Linked DNA regions of Homo sapiens. The protein of the gene in region 2 purifies or fractionates together with the protein of the main gene of each other region. This does not show direct contact. Each region holds a gene or a part of one and is shown on either strand. Other genes may lie near its edges. The genes, in order: ST14 and SPINK1.

Evidence for each region.
Region 1: the proteins of SPINK1 (region 2) and ST14 purify together in Homo sapiens (affinity purification with mass spectrometry; one large-scale study listed by BioGRID and IntAct). This does not show direct contact.

What each region holds. Positions count from the first base shown.
Region 1 is NC_000011.10:130,197,648-130,201,469, reverse strand, and holds part of ST14 (suppressor of tumorigenicity 14 protein), read right to left. Parts: intron 3,630-3,822; coding exon 3,525-3,629; intron 3,163-3,524; coding exon 3,052-3,162; intron 2,963-3,051; coding exon 2,849-2,962; intron 2,524-2,848; coding exon 2,401-2,523; intron 1,520-2,400; coding exon 1,333-1,519; intron 1-1,332. UniProt on the Homo sapiens protein: Exhibits trypsin-like activity as defined by cleavage of synthetic substrates with Arg or Lys as the P1 site. Involved in the terminal differentiation of keratinocytes through prostasin (PRSS8) activation and filaggrin (FLG) processing.
Region 2 is NC_000005.10:147,826,264-147,828,880, forward strand, and holds part of SPINK1 (serine protease inhibitor Kazal-type 1 precursor), read right to left. Parts: intron 1,866-2,617; coding exon 1,759-1,865; intron 1-1,758. UniProt on the Homo sapiens protein: Serine protease inhibitor which exhibits anti-trypsin activity. In the pancreas, protects against trypsin-catalyzed premature activation of zymogens.

The DNA.
Region 1 (3,822 bases), on a different chromosome or scaffold from region 2:
ACTCCATCTGTGCCTCAGGCCTCCCTCCTGCTGTGGGCCCATCTCTCCTCCCTGCAAAGGGCAGCTGAGGGCTTGGGTCACCTGCTCCTGGAGCTGCCTACCATGGAAAAGCGTGCAGCCAGCAGAAAGCGCATCCCCTTCTTCCGAGGTTGGATTCTCCTGGAAGGCCCATGCCCCTGTGCCTGCCTCTTCAGGGCAAGCCAGGCCCTAACACTCCTTCCTTCAGCCAACAGCCAGACGCCCAGAGAGGCCAGGAGCTAAGACACAAATAGCGCAGCCCGGCATTGTGCCCCTGTTCCTGGGATGCCCATGTGACCCTTCCAGGCCTCTCATCTGTCTGTGTGTCTGAGGCCATGACATGCTGAGCACCTACTATGTGCCAGGCACAGCGCAAAGTGTCTCAAGTACAGCATTGTATTTAATTCTCACAACTCTAAGGGTGGGAGCTGATACTGTCACTATCATTGGTGAAGAACCCAAGGCCTAGGAAGTTTGAATAACCTGCCCAGGGCCACCGGCAAGCCAGAGCTGGAGCATGAATCCAAAGCTCACGTTGGCCAATCCGAGGAGTTGCACAGTGCAGACTCACCGGAGACCACACCTGTGCTCAAGTCTGGCTCTGCCACTTAACAGCTGTGCCACCCCAAGCAAACGTCCCTACTTCTCTGAACCTTACTTTCTGTAGTGAGGATACAATCAAGCTGCCTAACTTGCTAGGGGGTTTTAGGAGAGGCACAGAGACAGCACTTGGCTGCAAGTGGGCACCGAATACAGTGAGTTTTTATTATTACTGTTATTGAGCCCCGTCCTGGGATATCTGCTCATTTGGTTTGGATGCTTGTCCCCTCCAAATCTCATGTTGAAATGGGATCCCCAGTGTTGGAGGTGGGGCGTGGTAGGAGGTGTTTTGGTCACGGTTCCCTCATGAATGTTTTGGTGCCCTTCCCATGGTGATGGGTGAGTTCTGAGTTCACACGAGGCTGGCTGCTTAAGAGTCTAGGACCTCCTCCTGCTCTCTCTTGCTCCTGTTCTCGCCATGTGATGTGCCTTCTCCCCCTTCACCTTCTGCCATGGATGGAAGCTCCCTGAGGCCCTCACCAGAAGCAGAGGCTGGCACCACGCTTCCTATACAGCCTGCAGAACCATGGGCCAAATAAACTCTTTTCTTTATAAATGACCCAGTCTCAGGTATTTCTTTAGAGCAACTCAAGAATGGACTAACACATGTGGCCACCCCTCCAGTGCCCTGCCTCGGTGCCAACCTATCCTGGCATTACTCCCAGATGCAAAGGGCCAGCAAGGAGGCTCCCTGCTGCCCACCCAGAGACCCACCTGAATCCTCTGTCATCGATGTAGCAGTGTGCGGCAGAGACCAGCCAGTTGGGAGAGATGAGGGAAGCACCGCAGATGTGGCCCTGGCCCAGAGCATGCAGGCTTACCTGCCAGGGCCACTCGCCCTCATCCGCATCCGTGCCCCCAACAACACGAGCCTGTCTCGTGAATGACCGCAGCCCACAGTCTGCAGAGGGAGCAGAGAACCAGAGGACAGCAAGTCAAGGTGGGGACATCAAACCACAAGGGGACATGCAGTGTGTGCCAGGAGACCCTGTGTGGGGAAGCCAGCTTTTGGCGTGCACAGCACTGCTGGCGTGGCCAGGGCGTGAGGGACCCCCAAAACTATCTTTGAGCTTCACAGACTCCCTTCCACCATGCCCCTCCTTCTCCCCGCTCCCAAATTCAAACCCTCATCTTCCCACCTCCCCCTCCCTCACAAATGCAGCGAGGGCCTCCGGAGGCTGGCTGGTCAGCTTCACTTTGATTTGGGTGTCATCTGCCTGACTTGACATCATTTGGGACATCACAGGGGAGGGGGCAGCATGGAGCAGGGAGAAGCGCCTTTGAATGCTGAAGGCCACAGCTCTGAGAGGGACGAATGAACCGCTGATGTGAGGTCACAGAACGCTGGAGCTGTGCTCAAATCTAACCTGTGGCCAGCCAACGCTTCTGAAACACAGAGGCTGCAGATTAAAGTATGGGCAGGCAGGGGTGACACCCTGCCTTGGGCTTGGGTGAGCTGGGCCGCTCTTCTCCAGGCTACTGCTCCACAGCTGTGTCTACACAGCAGGGGCCAGCAACGCACTGCAGCCACGACCCCGCCATGCTACAGAGGCGCTGAGATGCTGGCCGTACGGGCCTTTCTCCAAGACCAGAGCCAGCCCGTGGGGTGGTGCCTTCATGCCAACTGGCAAGGCTATCCTTTCCTCCAGGAGACACACCCTCTCACCCAAGCACAGAGCTGCTAAGTGAGGTGCTGGCGGGATTGCACCTCCAGGTGCACCCTCTGGTGGGCACTTCACACAGTGAACAACCTGCACAACCGTACTCGGATGCCCTGCTCACCGCAGTCCTTCTCATCTGAGCCGTCGCTACAGTCCTCCTTCCCGTCACACTCAGGGTTGCCCTTGCTCAAGCAGAGCCCATTGAGGCAGCGGTAGGTGTGTTTGGTACAAGTGACGACGTTCACTGTTCAAGGAGGAGGACAAGGGAGGGGCTCAATTCCTCTGCAGCATCCGACCAGAAGCCAGAAACCACCAATGGCGCCTCATGGCCCCTGCACATTACCCCCTCACCCAGGCCTGCCCCACCCACGCCCACTGGCCTCCCTGCCCTGCTACAGGTTCTCCACCTTCTGGAAAATTCTCCCCCAACCAGAGCCCTTTCTCATCACACTTAACACACAGGTGGTTTGTGTTCATTAAACTCGGGGCGTCCTGCATGTGCGTGTGCTCAGGGCAGCCTCCTCCAGGGGCGAGGCCCCCAACAGGAAGATGGGTGGGGCGGGCCTCACCCTTGGGGCAGGAGGCCTCGTCGGACCCGTCCCCACAGTCGTCCTTCCCATTGCACTGCTGGCTTTTCGAGAGGCACTTCCCATTGGAACACCTGAAGGTCTGGGCCGGACAACCTGGAGAGGCACCAGGACTCAGCCACCAGGAGCCACCGTCAGTCGCCCCGCCCACCTGCCCGCCCAGGCAGCCCCTCCCCAGCACTCACTGCACCCCTGCTCGTCGCTGTTGTCTCCGCAGTCGTTCACACTGTCGCAGACCCAGAAGAGGGGCTTGCAGAACTTGTTCTTGCACGTGAACTGGTGGCCGGCGTCGCAACCTGGAGTGGGGTAAGGGGAGGTCGGCCGTGAGGCCCTCATCACTCACTGCTTCCCCAGGATGCCCAGGCGATCAGAGCTACCTGGGGACCGCTTTCTGATCTACAGAGAGGCCCAAGGGGCCCTGCTCCACCAGCTACCAAGCTGACCTCAGCACTTCCGAGATACCCCACCACCTGCCCCACAGGCCAAGATCTCCATATGGCAGGGTGGGGAGTGGGGCCAGAGGTCTCTACACAGGGCCGAGAGCAAAAACTCCCACCACCTCCGGCCTTTCTGCCTCGGCAGTCAGCCAGCAGGGCCATGGGACGCGGGCAGGGTGGGGAAGGAGGGTGGGGAGACCGGGGCTCCCAGCCTGACTCACTGCAGTTGAGCTCATCGCTGTGGTCGGTGCAGTCGGCCCAGCCATCACAGCGCAGCTCCTTCCGGATACACCGCCCCGTGCGGCACGTGAACTGCCCCGGGCATGCTGCGGGCACAGGCAGGCCTGAGGCCCCCAGCACCCACCCACCTCCCTCCGCTGGCTCCCGGCTCCCTCCCTCGGGCCAACCTCCCAGCCACAAACACACAGGAGCAGGGCAGGTGCTGTGGCCCAGGGCAGGGGTTACCCAGGCCCACCAAGCTGTGACAAAGGGGTTCCTGCACCCGCAGCTAGTGTGGGA
Region 2 (2,617 bases):
TAATAAGTTTGGGACTTTTAATCAACAGTGAAAAAGGCAATGTCATACATTAGGAAATATGTTGTATTTGAGAAAGCAACATTTTGTCTCTAGACCTAAATTTTCTTATCTGAGAAATATAGGAAGAGAGGTCATGTTTTCTAGCATACAAATGTGCCTCCCATATTTACATAGTTTTGAACAAATAGAAAGAATAAGCAGAAACTCGGAGGTTTCAGAGGCTAAGCAGATAGGGTGTTCCAGCCCTCTACTAATATTTTTCTAATGTTTCACTGTAAATGTTGAGCGGCACTTGGAAATTTCCCAAGTCTCAAAGCTGTTGTTCTCTTGCTTTCTCCTCCCATTGGATGGAAATATGATGTTTGAGCTTAATGTCAAGAACATGGGTCATGAGAAAACTAACAGGTGGCTTCAAATTCTTTTTACAAGTCTTAATTATGGAAACAGATTTATTACAAAGTAGAATACCTAATGTTTTGGGTCTAAAACTTCAGGATATTAGACCTCTCATCCAGAGGTCCTATTTCCACAATACTTGCTAAACTCTGAGAATTTTCCAAAATGGTTTAAAACAGCCCAAGAAGAAGGTTTGCATTACAGAAAAGGGAATTTATGCAGTAGAATATAATGGAAATTTACACAGTCATTTGAGCCTGAGTCAAAGTCTTTAATATCAAGTCAATCTCAGAAAAACTAAAGTCACTCGTGGAATCCCTTTTATTTGCTTTGTTCATTCCACACCTTTATTTAACCTGGCATGCTCTTTTGATATTGCCAAAATTCAGAACTCTATTTAAATGGCATTCTATTCTTTTTTTTTCCTTTTTTTTAAGATGGAGTCTCACTCTTGTCACCCAGGTTGGAGTGCAGTGGCACAATCTCAGCTCACTGCAACCTCTGCCTCCCAGATTGAAGCGATTCTTCTGCCTCAGCCTCCTGAGTAGCTGGTATTATAGGCGCCCGCCACCATGGGGTTTCACCATGTTGGCCAGGCTGGTCTCAGGTGATCCACCTGCATCGGCCTCCCAAAGTGCTGGGATTACAGGAGTGAGCCACTGCACCCGGCTGGCATTCTATTCTTTTCATGGATCCTTTCTTGGCCCCTTTTAATAAAAAATATGTATCTCTGCTTCACTCCTGTTGCACTTTATTTACACCTCATCTTCTGGCATTTGCCCCAAGTTATAAGAAGCCATCCTATACATGCTCATGATGTTTTCTTAGTCATAAGCACAAGTAAGACAGGGAATATTAGCATGATGCTTGAGACATGCTAAGGTTTCAGTTGCTGAGTGAGATAGGAAATCTGTGTTGAATCTATTTCTCTGTATCACATCACCTACTTATGGTCACTGAGGAAATGAAGCTTTACTGAAACTGGCTTTCATATCCATAAGTAAAAATATATTTTTGGTTATATAATCTATACAATTTATATTTGCATAACTGAGGGCTTTAAAAAACACAATCATTGCAACCACTAATAATTTTTTTAATTAAAGGTATTTTGTGTGTACTTTATAAAAATCCAAGCTATCGACTATTTTGCTGTAAAAAATATAGGCTTTTATCATACAAGTGACTTCTAAAAAATAATATTTAATGCTAAATATATAAAAGGGAGAATAAGAAAGAGATAACTGTTTTTGGAAAAAGTAAATAGTTTGCTTTTCTCGGGGTGAGATTCATATTATCAGTACACTTGAAGATAACTAACTTAAAATATATAGTTTAAAAGAAACTCAAGTTTGTACTCACCGATTTTCAAAACATAACACGCATTCATTGGGATAAGTATTTCCATCAGTCCCACAGACAGGGTCATATATCTTGGTGCATCCATTAAGTTCATTGTAACATTTGGCCTAAAAATGGAATTAAACAGAATCATTTCCCATTATTCTCCATTCTTGAGTTCATAGCAAAATCTCTGAAATGGTTTTATTTCTCTGGGGAATAACTGTGATTGGGAGAATGATACTGTGTGTTGTAAGAGAAATAACCTACTATCTGGAGACAGAAAACCTTGTTTTAAGTCATGCCTCTGCTATTTCTAAGCTGTGTGACATTAGTAAGTCCTATGGCCCTTCTGAAACTCAGTCAGTTCATCTGCAAAACAGTGATGATATTACCATTTCCCACCTATCTCATAGTGTTGTTGTGAGATTTACATGGATGGGTGAGATAATGTTCAAGTTTGCAATTACTGCGGGTGCTGGCATCTCTCAGGTTGGCCACATCTTGGGGCACGTTCTTCCTTGTACACTGTAGTCCACACACACTGGTCTTCTATTAGGCACTTAAAGGCACTAGGCATTGTCGGGTGTTGGAAGTCTTTGCATTCTACTCCAGTAAGAGTTTATAATCATCAAATGATTGTCATTGTCCTAGACATTGTTCTAGTGCTTTTTATATATTATTCTGTTTAAACCTCCTAACTATCCTGTGAACTAAGTATTATATTCTTCTTCAGGTGAAGATAATGAGGCACAAAGCAATAAAATTAGCCAAGGCCACCCAGCTAAGGAATTCCTAAATTCAGAATTCAAACCTAGTCAGAGTTCCTGAGCTTTAGCTCTTAAGTACTTTATTCTACTACATCTCCCCACCAGTTTTG